Homo sapiens: one gene and its partners. The protein of the gene in region 2 purifies or fractionates together with the protein of the main gene of each other region. This does not show direct contact. Each region holds a gene or a part of one and is shown on either strand. Other genes may lie near its edges.

What was found. Proteins that work in one complex are often made in the same cells at the same time.
Region 1: the proteins of TRMT10A (region 2) and SAE1 fractionate together in Homo sapiens (co-fractionation; one large-scale study listed by BioGRID). This does not show direct contact.
Region 3: the proteins of TRMT10A (region 2) and PPP2R5E fractionate together in Homo sapiens (co-fractionation; one large-scale study listed by BioGRID). This does not show direct contact.

What each region holds. Positions count from the first base shown.
Region 1 is NC_000019.10:47,136,860-47,141,989, forward strand, and holds part of SAE1 (SUMO-activating enzyme subunit 1), read left to right. Parts: intron 1-5,130. UniProt on the Homo sapiens protein: The heterodimer acts as an E1 ligase for SUMO1, SUMO2, SUMO3, and probably SUMO4. It mediates ATP-dependent activation of SUMO proteins followed by formation of a thioester bond between a SUMO protein and a conserved active site cysteine residue on UBA2/SAE2.
Region 2 is NC_000004.12:99,553,391-99,558,520, forward strand, and holds part of TRMT10A (tRNA methyltransferase 10 homolog A), read right to left. Parts: intron 4,822-5,130; coding exon 4,659-4,821; intron 4,027-4,658; coding exon 3,955-4,026; intron 2,831-3,954; coding exon 2,756-2,830; intron 545-2,755; coding exon 395-544; intron 1-394. UniProt on the Homo sapiens protein: S-adenosyl-L-methionine-dependent guanine N(1)-methyltransferase that catalyzes the formation of N(1)-methylguanine at position 9 (m1G9) in tRNAs. Probably not able to catalyze formation of N(1)-methyladenine at position 9 (m1A9) in tRNAs.
Region 3 is NC_000014.9:63,395,723-63,400,852, forward strand, and holds part of PPP2R5E (serine/threonine-protein phosphatase 2A 56 kDa regulatory subunit epsilon isoform), read right to left. Parts: intron 995-5,130; coding exon 864-994; intron 1-863. UniProt on the Homo sapiens protein: The B regulatory subunit might modulate substrate selectivity and catalytic activity, and might also direct the localization of the catalytic enzyme to a particular subcellular compartment.

The DNA.
Region 1 (5,130 bases), on a different chromosome or scaffold from region 2:
AGGAGGCTCCACAGAGCAAATTGACTTGCCTCTAAGAGGGCTCTAGGTGGGATAGGAGGGTTCTAGGTGGGATAGGAGAACTCTGGAGACTGGAGTTCCTTTATGAAACAGAAGCCCTGGAAATGGGCAGGCTGATAAAATGTACAAATTGTGGGGCATTTTATAAGACAGTTATCCTACTTCTCTTCCAAAAGTCAGTTTCATGGGAAAAATAAGTGAAGGGACTGTTGTGGATTAAAAGAGAGTAAAGGCCGTCACAGTGACTCAGCCTGTAATCCCAGGACTTTGAGAGGCCGAGGTGGGTGGATCACCTGAGGTCAGGAGTTCGAGACTAGCCTGGCCAACATGGTGACCGTCTCTACTAAAAATACAAAAAAAATTAGCCAGGTGTGGTGGTGGGTGCTTGTAATCCCAACTACTTGGGAGGCTGAGGCAGGAGAATTGTTTGAATCCAGGAGGCAGAGGTTTTAGTGAGCCAAGGTCACACTATCGCACTCCAGCCTGGGTGACAAGAGCGAAACTCTGTCTCAAAAATAAATAAATAAAATAAAATAAAGTAAAGAAGCAGCTTCCTAGAGCAGATTTGGTTGCTTAAATTGAGGCCAAGTTTCTGGAGTTTTTATTGATAGTTGACAATTACAACTAAAATTTTTTTTTCTCGCTCTGTTACCCAGGCTGGAGTGCAGTGACGCAGTGACGTGATCTTCAGCTCACTGCAACCTCCACCTCCCGGGTTCAAGGGATTCTCCCGCCTCAGCCCCCAAGTAGCTGGGACCACAGGCGTATGCCATATCACTCAGCTAATTTTGTGTGTGCATGGCGTATGCCGTAACACTCAGCTGATTGTGTGTGTGTGTGTGTGTGTGTGTTGTTTTTTTTTTTTTTTTGTGATGGACTCTCACTCTGTCGCCCAGGCTGGAGTGCAGTGGCACAATCTTGGCTCACTGCAACCTCCGCCTCCTGAGTTCAAGCGATTCTCCTGCCTTAGCCTCTGGAGTAGCTCGGATTACAGGCGCGTGCCACCACACCTGGCTGATTTTTATATTTTTAGTAGAGACGGGGTTTTACCATGTTGGCCAGGCTGGTCTCAAACTCCTCACTTCAAGTGATCTGCCCACCTCGGCCTCCCAAAGTGCTGGGATTACAGGCGTGAGCCACTACACCCGGCCTATGTGTGTGTATTTTATTTTTTTATTTTTTTGAGACGGAATTTCTCTCTTGTTGCCCAGGCTGGAGTGCAATGGCGTGATCTAGACTCACTGCAACCTCTGCCTCCCGGGTTCAGGCAATTCTCCTGCCTCAGCCTCCTAAGTAGCTGGGATTACAGGCGCCTGCTACCGCGCCCAGCTAATGTTTGTATTTTTAGTAGAGACCAGGTTTCGCCATGTTGGCCAGGGTGGTCTTGAACTCCTGACCTCAGGTGATCTACCCGCCTCAGCCTCCTTAAGTGCTGGGATTACAGGCATGAGCCACTGCGCCTGGCCAGAAGTTACCTTCTTTGTGCCTGTTTTCTCAGCTGCAAAAGAGGGGTAACAAAGTGCCAGCCCATTAGATTGTCATGGGAATTAAATGACATAATACATACAAAGAGCTTAGTAGAACAGTGCTTGGCACATAGTAAGTGTTAGATAAATGTTGGCCATTATTATTTTATTATGTACCAGATTTCTATAATTCTGCTGATGGACACAGGTTTGTTTTGGTGTGTCTATTAATTCACAGCCATTTGAGTAACAGTATGTCCTAAATGCCAAGGAAGTTACTGGTTCTAGTGATACAGTGGTTTCTGGAGTTTACATTCTAATGGAGGAGGGGGCAGTAAACATATAAACAAGTAGTGTAGCTTAGCACAGTGGTGTGTGGCTGTGATCCCAGCTACTGGGGAGGCTGAGGTTGGAGGATCACTTGAGCCAGGCAATTGAGACTAGCTTGGGCAACTTAGTGAGGCCCCATTTCAATCAAAACAGTGGGCAACACAGACCCCATCTTAATCAAAACAAAAACAAGTAGCATAATTCGAGATAGAAGAGGATGTGGACCTATTTTAAATTAGGTGGCCAGTATGGACTTCTCTAAGGAGGTGACAATTGAGCTGAGACCTAAAGAATGTGTCCCTTAAGAAGTTGAGGGAAGAAGCAATGGGAAGCACTAATGCCAAGGTCCTAAGGTGGGAGCAAGGATGGGAGCAAGGATGATGTTCTCTAGGATCAGCCTCCCGAGTAGCTGGGACTACAGGCACGTGCCACCACGCCTGGCTAATTTTTGTATTTTGAGTAGAGATGGAGTTTCACCATATTGGCCAGGCTGGTCTCGAACTCCTGACCTCAAGTGATCCGACCGCCTCGGCTAATTTTGTGTATTTTTAGTAGAGACGGGGTTTCACCGTGTTAGCCACGATGGTCTCCATCTCCTGAACTCATGGTCCTCCCACCTTGGCCTCCCAAAGTGCTGGGATTACAGGCGTGAGTCGCCGCGCCTGGCACACCCAGCTAATTTTTTTTTGTTTTGTACAGATGGAGTCTTACTTTGTTGCCCAGGCTGGTTTCGAACTCATGGGCTCAAGTGATCCTCATGCCTTGCCCTCCTAAAGTGCTGGGATTACAGGTGTGACCCACTGCGTCCAGCCTGCTGTAGTTTTGTCGGAGAGAAACGATGGTGGCTCAGACTAGAGTGGTGTTTGTGGAACTTGAGGGAAGTAGATGGACAATGCTGCTGTGAATGTGTATCTTTTTTTTTTTTTTTTTTTGAGACAGAGTCTCACTCTTGTCACCCAGGCTGGAGTGCAGTGGCGCGATCTCGGCTCACTGCAAGCTACACCTTCCGGGTTCACACCATTCTCCTGTCTCAGCCTCCCGAGTAGCTGGGACTACAGGCACCCGCCACCACTCCCGGCCAATTTTTTTTTTTTTTTTTTTGTATTTTTAGTAGAAACGGGGTTTTACCATGTTAGCCAGGATGATCTCAATCTCCTGACCTCGTGATCTGCCCGCCTTGGCCTCCCAAAGTGTTGGGATTATAGGCGTGAGGCACCGTGCCCTGCTGAATGTGTATCATTTTTGTGCCCACTTGGGTATTTCTTTTTTTTTTTTTTTTTTTGAGACGGAGTCTCGCTCTTTCGTCCAGGCTGAAGTGCAATGGTGCGGTCTCGGCTCACTGCAACCTCCGCCTCCCGGGTTCAAGCGATTCTCCTGCCTCAGCTTCCCGAGTAGCTGAGATTACAGGCGCCTGCCACCACTCCCGGCTAATTTTTTTTTTTTTTCTTTTTGAAACAGACCCTTGTTCTGTTGCCCAGGATGGAATGCAGTGGCGCCATCTCGGCTCACTGCAAACTCCACCTCCCGGGTTCACGCCATTCTCTTGCCTTAGCCTCCCGAGTAGCTGGGACTACAGGCGCCCGCCACCATGCCCAGCTAATTTTTTATATTTTTAGTAGAGATAGGGTTTCACCTTGTTAGCCAGGATGGTCTCGGTCTTCTGACCTCGTGATCTGCCTGTCTCGGCCTCCCAAAGTGCTGGGATTACAGGTGTGAGCCACCGTGCCCAGCCCACGCCCGGCTAATTTTTGTAATTTTAGTAGAGATGGGGTTTCACCATGTTGGCCAGGCTGGTCTCGAACTCCTGACTTCAGGTGATCTACCCACCTTGGCCTCCCAAAGTGATGGGATTTGTAAACCCAGCACTTTGAGGGAGGCAGAGGCAGGAAGATTGCTTGAGCCCAGGAGCTGGAGATGAGCCTGGGCAACATAGTGAGACCCTGTGTCTACAAAAAAAAAAAAAAACCCATAAATCAGCCAGGTGCAGTGGTGTGCACCTATAGTCCCAGGACTCAATAGGCCGAGGTGGCGGGATCACTTGAACCTGGGAGGTTGAGGCTGCAGCGAGCCCTGATCTTGCCACTGCCCTTCAATCTGGGTTCACAGAATGAGACCCTGTTTCAATAAAACAAAACGTAAACATGGTATTTGGTGTTGATGGCAGTTGAGTATTTAATTTAATTTAATTTAATTTTTTTTGAGACGGAGTCTGTCACCTGGGATGGAGTGCAGCGGCACAGTCTTGGCTCATTGAAACCTCTGCCTCTCAGGTTCAAGCGATTCTCCTGCCTCAGCCTCCCAAATAGCTAGGATTACAGGTGCCCGCCACCAACATGCCCAGCTAATTTTTTTTTTTTAAACAGAGTCTCGCTGTGTCACCCAGACTGGCATGATCTCCGCTTACTGCAACCTCCGCCTCCCAGGTTTGAGTGATTCTCCTGCCTCACTGTCCCGAGTAACTGGGACTACAGGCGCCTGCCACCACGCCTGGCTAATTTTTGTATTTTCTGTAGAGACACGGTTTTGCCATGTTAGCCAGGCTGGTCTCGAACCCCTGGACTCAAGTGATCTGCCCGCCTTGGCCTCCCAAAGTGCTGGGATTACAGGCGTGAGCCCCCACGCCTGGCCATAATTTTTTTTGTATTTTTAGTAGAGAGGGTGTTTCACCATGTTGGACAGGCTGGTCTCGAACTCCTGACCTCAGGTGATCCACCCATCTCAGCCTCCCAAAGTGCTGGGATTACAGGCATGAGTCACCGGGCCCGGCTGAATAATGAATTTTAAACAACTGCAGAGCAGTCTGTAGAGCTATGTAGGAATGTAGGTCGTGGAGAGCAGATTTATTGTCAGGGACTTTTTATATGTAGCTGTTGCTGGAAGAGTTCGGGGAGGGGGAGTGCTTGCTGGTATTGACTCAGCCATGATAAAAAAGCCTTTTTTTGAGGAAATGGCATTGGAGTTGGGTTTTGAAGGGGAAAGGCGTAGGTAGGCATTGAGAGGAAGAAATGGTGCATTTTGCGAGGGTGGAATGTTGTGATTAAATTTTATTTAATTTTTAATTAAATTAATAGCAAACTCTTACCAGCAGAACTTAAATTGTGTGAAAATTATTCTTAGTTATTACTAAATCCTTTTCAGTATGAATAATACATTTGCTGCAGAATTATTAATGAGTTTGGTTACATGATGCAGCCCAAGATCTTGATGAGTTGTTTCATAATACATGATGTAAAGTCTGTATTTCCTTTTTGAAATCTGAAAAAATTGTGACTCTGAAATACTTCTGGTTCAAGAGATTTCAGATAAGATATAGTTG
Region 2 (5,130 bases):
CTAGTTTAAGTTCCAATGGCTTAGCAATTGATTAGCAGCAGAATCTTCTATCAGTAAAGCATAGACAGCATTTAAGCATGTGGACTCCAGAGCAATCAGCCTGGTTTCAAATAGCTGCTTTGTCACCTACTACTGTTGATTTTAGACTTAATTTCTCTGTGCCATGAATTCCTTACTTGTGGAACGTAAATAATAATAGCACTAATCTCACTGGGTTGAGTGAAGATTAAGCAAGCTAACTTATGTGAAATACTTTGCTTAGCTCAGAAGGTGACTGACATATAGTAGGCACTCAATAAAGATGAGCTATCATTAGTATTATTGTTACTTTCAGGAAATGGTGATATATCAATTTTAAGAACAAGCAAAAGCAAAAATAAAAATTTAATAGTACCTTGTGATGGTTGTGATCTACTAATCCTCCAATCACATAGGCCTTTGATTCATCTAATTCCTTCAGTATATTAGGTGAATCTGACGTAAGGTAAATCAGGTCTTCTTTCTTTATGAGTTCACTATAGTGCTCTGGTTTGATATGGATATCCTTTAAGACAACAGGGAAAGAGGTTACTAATTAATAAGACCTTATGAAAGTTGGCTAAAAATGATTATTCTCTTTTCCCAAAACAAATCCATTCAAAAATATATGAAACAAAGTTTGAAATAATATAATTACAATGCATTATTTTGAATTTACTACATCAATTTCTTATATCTCACACTTTGATCATTTAAATAGCCTCTTAATTTTATTTCCTCCTTGTTGGCCTCAGACCCCTCCAACCTACTTCCACACACTGATAGCAGGCTCATTTTCTAAAAACACTACTTTCAATGTTTTATCTTTTTCTGTGGGATAAAATCTGAAATCCTTAATTTAAAAACTCTTTCCTGAATATGGCAGTAATCTACTTTTCCAACTTTATTTCTGTTCCAACAAAACAAACGCATTTTTACTGCCACATATTTGCTCACATTGTTCTATGACCAAAGAATGCCTTCTCCAATTACTTCCTCTCCATCTACATGAATCATGAAAGGGAAATAGCTGGCCACGTGCGGTGGCTCATGCCTGTAATCCCAGCACTTTGGAAGGCTGAGGCAGGTGGATCACAAGGTCAGGAGTTCGAGACCAGCCTGGCCAACATGGTGAAACCCTGTCTCTACTAAAAATACAAAAATTAGCTGGGTGTGGTGGCGGGCTCCTGTAATCCCAGCTACTCGGGAGGCTGAGGCTGGAGAATTGTTTGAATCCCGGAGGCAGAGGTTGCAGTGAGCCGAGATTGCACCATTGCACTCCAGCCTGGGTGACAGTGCAAGCGACTACGTTTCAAAAAAAAAAAAAAAAAAAGAAAGAAAAAAAGAAAAGGAAATAGTTTATAGATTTAATTAATTCCATGTATCTGTTTCTACAAAGAGACACACATTTGAAAACTTCTTCACCAAAATTGTCAGGTCACAGGTACAAAATTGAACAATAGCTGGCAGTCATGATTTTGTAAGCCACATTGACTGCATAAAAGATGTATCACCAGGCTCAGATGACATTTATCCATAATTTTTAATGAAACCAAGAATGAGGCAAAAGAACTCTCTCCTAAAATGTATAATTAATAAATAGCCAGTTTTCTGGAAAATGTTATATTACAAATTTAAGGCCCCAAGAGGAACCTGATTAATTAGAGACCAATGAATCTCAAGTCTCTCTGGAAAGGTGATGGTATAAATGATAAATTTAACAAGTCGCAAAATAACTGAAAACATGCCTCTTTTAATTTATTACACTAGTTCTTGGAAAAATGGGCACAAATACAGGATTTGGTAAATATACTGTACTTAAAAACTTAAAAGCCTTTGAAAATGTTTCATATCATAGGCTATTAATAAAATAAATGCCTTTGTTATGGAATTAGTGAGTGTGAAAGGGAAAGTGTGTCACTGAGAGAACTGACTTTGAGAAAGAAAAAAGGTATAGGGATAACCCAGTACTTCCCTAAATAGGATCAAGTTCCTCAGGGACTGGTACCAAGGCCAATCTATTTAGTCACCTTTACCAATGACTGAGAACAATTTGGTCCAATAGAAAAAACTGTGAGGCCACATAGGCAATTTTAAATATTCTAGTATCCAAATTTTAAAAAGTGAAAATAGGTGAAATTAATTTTAACAATTTATTTTATTAATACAGTATACCCAAAAGTTTATCATTTAAACATATAATAAATATTTTAAAAATTACCTAGGAGATATTCACATTCTTTCTCTTTTGTGGTACTGAGTCTTTGAAATCCAGTATGTATTTCACATTCATAGCACATCTCAATTCACAATTCAGACTGTCACATTTCAAGTTCAATAGCCACATGTGGATAGTGGCCAGCACAGAGTAAGAAGAAACAGAATGCAGGCACACTTCCAAAATTTAGAGTGACTTCATTTTTATAGGTAACATATAATGTATAGCTAGTATGTTAGGGAGAAATGATATAAAGGCCCTTAAAATTATTTCTTTTTAAAAATACGTTTTAAAAGTTGACCATAAAATAGGGAAGATTTAATGAGAACAAATACAAGCTACCAGATGTCTCACTCCCTTCTTCAGCATCTCTGATTTGTAATCTTAGACTTAGGTTCAGAGATTGCATCTGGAGATTGTTGTATTAAGTAGCATTATATAGAATTTAGGTACAAAATGTAGACCTTTAGAAACATAAAAATACTTGGAATTATGTGAGAGTTTATCTGTTTTAATTACCTTCCAGTTGACCCATCCTTTGTCATTTTCATCCATGTTCTTTTTCAGCTGGCCTCCGTGGCTTGTCAAGTAAAACTGATAAAAGATTTGTAAGTATAGAAAAAGAGAACAAATGACCATTTAAGTCTAATATTTTATTTCTCTCATCTACTTATCTGACGATCAATGAAACACAAAATATATTTATTCTCATTCATCTAGAAAAAAAATTTGTGACATGCTTTGAGCAAACAATAAACTGTGGTAGAAATAGTACGTTTTGTGTGCATGTTTCATAACCCAGTAGCTGCAGTATCCCATTTACATTTTCATCCCAAGTAGTTATAACATGCCTGTACCTTAATCATCACTTGTCTACAAACTCCCTGCTTCCATGTCAAGTTCCCACTCCTCTTTTTTTTAAAACAATACAAAGTCTTCATAATTTTTCTTTGATTCTAAACCCTGACACCTATTTAAGTTTGAATCAAGGGTGAGAAGGGGTCTACTACAGATAAAAATGGGGATAAAAGGACTATCACAGAAGTGTGATATGAGACTATAAAACAAAAAGTATAAAAAACAAAAATACAAAATTACTATCACTTGGTAAAAACAAAATATCTAACCAAAATATATTAATAGTTCCTGGTTCTTAACATCAGTGAGCCAGTATTAATTTTTAGGTCACCTAGAATTCCAACAGAAAGATGTTATTCTTAACAGTAGCCAAATAGTCTCCCAAATCACTCCCTCACCTCAGCTTAAAAAAGACCTGTCAAAACTCTCAGTGACCCAAAAGAAAACTAAAAACCTTTAAGTAGACAAAATCTATACAACAGATACCACGACATATGTCAAGCGGTGGCAGCCACAGCTTCTGCCTCTCTGTCCAATCTCTCTCCCACACTGGAAGTAATTGTAAACTGAAAAACTGGTATAAAAATATATGTATGTCCCACAATGAAGATATCAACTACAGGCAATGAAAAGGCCAATTTGTATAAGACTGATGATTACTGGAAAGAGTGTGTCTAAGATAACATATTAAAAGATGTTTAAAATATTTTGCTTCATTTCTGTCAAAAAAATTTTTTTCACATAGGCATTAAACAAGATTACCTGTAAGACTACTGCAAAGACTATAGGAATTATCTATGTCTTTTGCCACAAAAGACATAAAAGAAAACTAGAGTCTGCTTTAAAATCTTTACACATACCTGCACAGGATGCAGTGCCCGTCGGTTTTCTGCGTAACATCGTTGAATCTGCTTATGAAGTTTCTTAATGTCCTATCACAGAGTTCAATTTTTAAAGCAAAGTTATTAAAATTGTCTATGGCCATTCTATGATCTTAAAGGAATGGAATAAGCAGAAGGGATGACTATATACATACAATTTTTCTTCTTAAATACAAATGCATTCTGATAAATGTTATTTGATTTCCTTACATACTAGCAAAATTACTGTAAGTTAATGCTCTGTAAGTGACCCATTATTTCATATTTTGTATTTATTTAAAATGCTAGTTCATGAAAACGGCTACTCTCTAAAGAGACAACAACAAGACTTTTAGAGCCATACTATTACTATTTTCATGTTTTACCAACAACACTGGTAAAACCCCACAGATCTTTATGATCAATAAGTAGTTAATTTAGTTCTGTCATCTAGACTACAAAGTGTGTGTTTGTCTCTCTTTCCTGTCTGCACACATACTGACACACACACATACACACATATATAAATACACATATTTATTATATCAATGCAATTTGCTAGCTAATTTAACTTAGGGGAAAGTTTGAAAAACTGAAGATTCATTTCAATACACAAATTTACATAAAAGGGATATTGCATATTAAAACAAAAATGATTCGACCTAATTCACATACAAGATTTTTCTGACAATGATTCATGATACCTTTAATACCATCAAGTGATCAAAACTACAGTCAATAATAAGGCGAAGGGTGCTATGAACAACATCTCTTCGAACACGTTTTCTGTCATGTCCATCTGAGTTTGGTTCCATTTGACATTGTCGCTCTAATTTTTTCCTCTTGCGTTTTTCTTTTCGCTTTTGTCTAAAATTAGTAATTGAAATAACATTTTGTTATTGTGTATTCAGTTATTTACAAGACTCTTCTAAATAAACAATTCCTTTTAAAAATCATCAGGTTAAATCATATGAAATTGTCACTTCTGTGACCATTCAAAAATGGTCAAGTATTAGCAGTTTTATACAACCCATCTAAAAGCTTCAGATAGGAAGGAAATGAGCTTCCAAAAATGATCTAAAGCTTTCTATCTAAATCCTAACTATACTATCTGAATAGTTTCATTTGTTATTGGTATCATACTATCCCTAACCTTATAAATACTGAGTTTGAGTT
Region 3 (5,130 bases), on a different chromosome or scaffold from region 2:
AAGGGAGGAGGAGCAGAGGGAAAAGGGAGGAGGAGGGGGGAAGAGAGGAGGAGACGGGGGAGAGATGGGGGGAAGAGAGGAGGAGAGGGAGGAGGAGAGGAGGAGGAGGGGGAGGGGGAGAAAAGGAGGGAAGAGAGGAGTCGGGGAGGAGAGGAGAAGGGGGGAAGAGAGGAGGGGAGCGGGAAGATGGGGGAGGGAGAGGTGGGGGAAGAGAGGAGGACAGGGAGGAGAAGAGGAGGAGAAGGGGGAGGGGGAGAAAAGGAGGGAAGAGACGGGGGAGGAGAGGAGAAGGGGGGAAGAGAGGGGAGGGGGAAGATGGGGGAGGGAGAGGTGGGGGAAGAGAGGAGGAGAGGGAGGAAAAGAGGAGAAGGGGGAGGGGGCAGGAGAGGAGGAGAGCGGGGAGGAGAGGAGGAGAGGGAGGGAGAAAGGAGGAGGACAGGGGATAGAGGAGGAGGAGGAGAGAGGAGAGGAAAAGAGGAGAGGAGGAGGAGATGGGGGAGGAGGAGAAGGGGGAGGAGAAAAGCAGGGGAGAGGGAAGAGGAGGGGGAAAGTAGGGGGAGAGGAGGGATAGAGAAGAAGCAGTGGGGGGAGGAGGGAGAGGAAGAGGAAAAGAGGAGGAAGAGGAGGGTGGGAGGAGAAGATGGGGGAGGAGAGGAGAAGATGGGGGAGGAGAGGAGAAGATGGGGGAGGAGAGGAGGGGGAGGGGGTAGAGGAAGAGGCAGGAGAGTCAGTAGAATGAAGGAAGGCAGGCAGAAAGGGAGAAAGAGAAGTCAGTACACCGTTTTCAGATATTTGAGATTTACTTAATACTCATAAAAACACCAACTTTGCTTCTCCTTCTTCCCCCATCACACTCCACTTACCTTAGAAAAATATTGTTAATCTGTTTTCGGATAAATGCTCTAAGACCAAGAAACTTGCCATAAATTCTGTGTAAGACTGTTTTTAAGTAGTCCCGTTCCCGAGGGTCTTCGCTGTCAAATAGCTCCAGAAGCTGTTGTAAATGAAAGACATTATAGCTGTCAAAGGCGGTTTCAGAAAAGGATTTAGGAATTCTATTATTTAAAATCCCCTTCTTCCTTCCTCAAAAAATGTGTTGAATATCTATTATGTGCCAAGCACAGTGCTAGTCTTTGGGCATATCATGATAAACAAGTCAGACAAGGAGCTTATATTCCACTAAAGAAATACAAATACAAAATAACAACAATAAAAGTAATAATATGAATAATAGCTAATACACATATGGCACTTACTGTGATCATCAGGCAATTTTCCAAGCAATCTACATATTAATCCTCCCAATGAGATAGTTTTGTCCCCCTTTTACAGAAGAGGAAACTGGGGCACATAGGGTTAAGTAACGTGCCCACGGTCTCACAGCTAATAGGTGGTAAAGCTAGAATTTGAACCCCAGCAGTTGAGGCCAAAAGTCCGTAGCTCAACCACTGCACTATGCTACCTACTGATATTCCAAATATGCAGTTAAAATAAGCTGACTGCCTGTGGTGACTCATGCCTGTAATCCCAGCACCTGGGGAGGCCAAGGCAGGCGCATCACCTGAGGTCAGGAGTTTAAGACCAGCCTGGCCAACATGGTGAAACCCCGTCTCTAGTAAAAATACAAAAATTAGCCAGGTGTGGTGGCGGGCACCTGTAATCCCAGCTACTCAGAAGGCTGAGGCAGGAGAATCACCTGAACCCAGGAGGCAGAGGTTACAGTGAGCTGCGATCGCGCCATTGCACTCCAGCCTGGGCCATAGAGCAAGATTCGGTCTTTAAAAAAAAAAAAAAAAAAAAAAAAAAAAGGATAAGCCTTCAGCTCTACTAGAACATCTAGGAAAATGAAAAAACCTGAATCAAAACAAACATCAAAATGTCTCAATGATACTGGCAATGGTCCTTTTTAGATCCAGACTCTTGTTATGTAGGTGTGCTCACTCTGTAAATAGTCAACGAAGTGAACATTGATTATTTCTGTTGTATGTTATATGTGAATAACTTTTTTTTTTTTTTTTTGAGATGGAGTATTGCTCTGTTGCCCAGGCTGGAGTGCAGTGGCACGATCTCAGCTCACTGCAACCTCCGCCTCCTGTGTTCAAGCAAGCAATTCTCCTGTCTCAGCCTCCTGAGTAGCTGGGACTAAAGGCACCTACCACCGTGCCCAGCTAATTTTTTGTATTTTTAGCAGAGACAGGGTTTCACCATATTGGTCAGGCTAGTCTCAAACTCCAGAACTCAGGTGATCCACCCACCTCAGCCTCCCAAAGTGCTGGGATTAGAGGTGTGAGCCACCATGCCTGGCTGTGAATAACATGTTTAAGTTCCCAAACATTTGTAATCTAAAGTTAATAACCAAATCCTGATAACATCACATCTACATGCTCAAAATGAGGTCCACGCAACTAGTCCAAAAGAGGTAACAAGCTAAAGTTTCAGCCAAATGCCAGTGAGCACAACAGATTCAACTCAATCTCTATCAAAAGTTCTAGCTGCTTTGTTTTTGTATCATTGACAAGTTGATCCTAAAATTCATATGGAAATGCAAGAGAACCAGAAGAGCCAAAATACTCTTGAGGGAAACAAAACTTGAAAGATTCACACTTCTCTATTTCAAAACTTAGTCCAAAATACCAAGACAGTGTGGTACTGGCATAAAGACAGACATACAGATTAATGGAATAGAATTAAGAGCCCAAAAGTAAGCCCTCACATTTATGGTCAACTGATTTTCAACAAGAATGGTCAATAAACCATGAAAAGTGCTCTATTTTATTGATCATTACAGAAAAGCAAACCCTGGCTCACGCCTGTAATCCTAGCACTTTTGGAGGCCGAGGGGGTAGATCACGAGGTCAGGGGTTTGAGATCAGCCTGGCCAACATGGTGAAATCCTGTCTCCACTAAAAATACAAAAATTAGCCAGGCGTGCTGGCACATGCCTGTAATCCCAGGTATTCGGGAGGCTGAGGCAGAAGAATTGCTTGAACCTGGGAGGTGGAGTTTGCAGTGAGCCGAGATCGCGCTGCTGCACTACAGCCTAGGCAACAGAGGAAGACTCCATCTCAGAAAAAAAGAAAAGAAAAGAAAACCCAACCAACAAAGAGATACTCATTGGATGGCTATAATGAAAAAGAGGGATAATAAAAAGTGTTGGCGAGGATATGGAGAAACTGGAACCCTCATACATTGTTGGTAAGAATGTAAAATGGTGCAGCTATTTCAGAAAACAGTTTGGCAGTTCCTTAAATCTCCCACAGAGTTACTATATGACTAAGCGATTCCACTTTCATGTATATATCCAGCAGAACCGAAAACACATGTCCACACAAAAACTTGTACACAGATGTTCATGGGAGCAATATTCATAATAGCTAAAAACTGAAACAACCCAAATATCCGTCAACTGATAAACAAAATGGGATGCCATGGAATATTATTCAGCCATAAAAAGGAACAAAGTAACTGATACATGTTACAACATCAATGAATCTTTCAAACATCATGCTAAGTAAGTAAAAGAAACCAGACACAGAAGGCCATACAATGTATGACTCCATTTATGTGAAATAAGCAGAATAGGCAAATCCATAGTGACAGAAAGTAGAATGGGGAGTGGCTACTAATAGGTCTGGATTTCTTTCTTTTTTTTTTTTTTTTTTTTTTTTTTTTTTTTGAGACAGAGTCTTGCTCTGTCACTAGGCTGGAGTGCAGTGGCGCTATCTCGGCTTACTGAAACCTCCGCCTTCCGGGTTCAAGCGATTCTCCTGCTTCAGCCTCCTGTGGGTCTGGATTTCTTTGAGGGATGATAAAAACATCCTGCAATGATACTGTGGTGATGGTTGCATGACTCTGTAAACATACTAAAAACCACTAAATTGGAAACTTTAAAATGGTGAATTTTATGGTGTATGAATTACAACACAATAAATCTGCTACCTTTACAAAAAGTCAGTGTGCAAGTTCCTCTGGCTGAAGAACAAACTTGGAAATTGGTTTGAATGTTACTGAGTTGTTTTTTTTAACATTCATCATCATTGCAATAAAGCAAAATTCAGTTCTAGTGTCTTTACAGCAAAACATTTCAAGAGCACATAACACACAAATTAGACTACCATCGTCATCAAAAAGGCTATCCAGATATATGTAAGTTTGACCTCAGGTGATTTAGACATGAGGTTGACACTGACAGCAGAATAAAAACCTCATGGTCAATAATCGAATGTGCTTTTGTTCGGTGTTTTAATTTGAATAAAAGACAAGAGTTATGGACCAAAAAAAGGCCCCTCAAACATGGCAGGAAACGCAAACTAAAGGATGGTCTTCAAAAATAGGTAGAGACAGGACACAATTTTTAGCTACATAATGCCATCCACCATCCATCTATCATTCATTCATCTGTTCATTTTAAAAATGAGTATTTCAAGTAAATATTTATGGTGTGCTTATTAAAAGCCAGCCAGTGGGCGAGCTGTCAGGGATACAATGATAAGCAAGACAGATACAGTCTTTGCTTTCTCAGAGCCTATTCTAATGGGGAATACAAACAAGTAAATAAACAGCATGTTAAGTAGTTCAGGATGTTGTATAAATACACAGCAGACACATCTACTGTATTTGGAAGAAGTGGAGTGATCAGCAAAGGCTTCTAAAGGAAGAGACATCCAGGCTGACCGATGAAGAAATGAGGAGTTAGAAGTGGGATATGAGTGCTCCTCACAGGTTCAATAGTACATGCTTTTCCTAGCAGCCTATCCAAACAGAAGATGTTGTTAACTACAGCTCTCTGCCCATTCAGCAATACAATAAATACATACGTACTGAGTTCTTTCTATGTGCCAGCGATGGTCCTCATTGCTGGACATACACATTGTTGAACAATTTTGGAGCCCATCAGGGGAGGTAATGGGCAAGTTAATACATTTCCACAGGAAAACATTCTATCTAGGAAAGAAAGGCATGTGGCCCCAACCAGCCAAAAAAAAAAGGCCCCATATAGACTCAGTATCTCTTTATCTATAACATGTTCCAAATGACATAAGACCTCTAATCCACCTACCCAATCCACCCATCCACCCATTCCCATTCCAAGGTTAATAGAAATAATTAACCTTGTAAGTTTTATTTTTT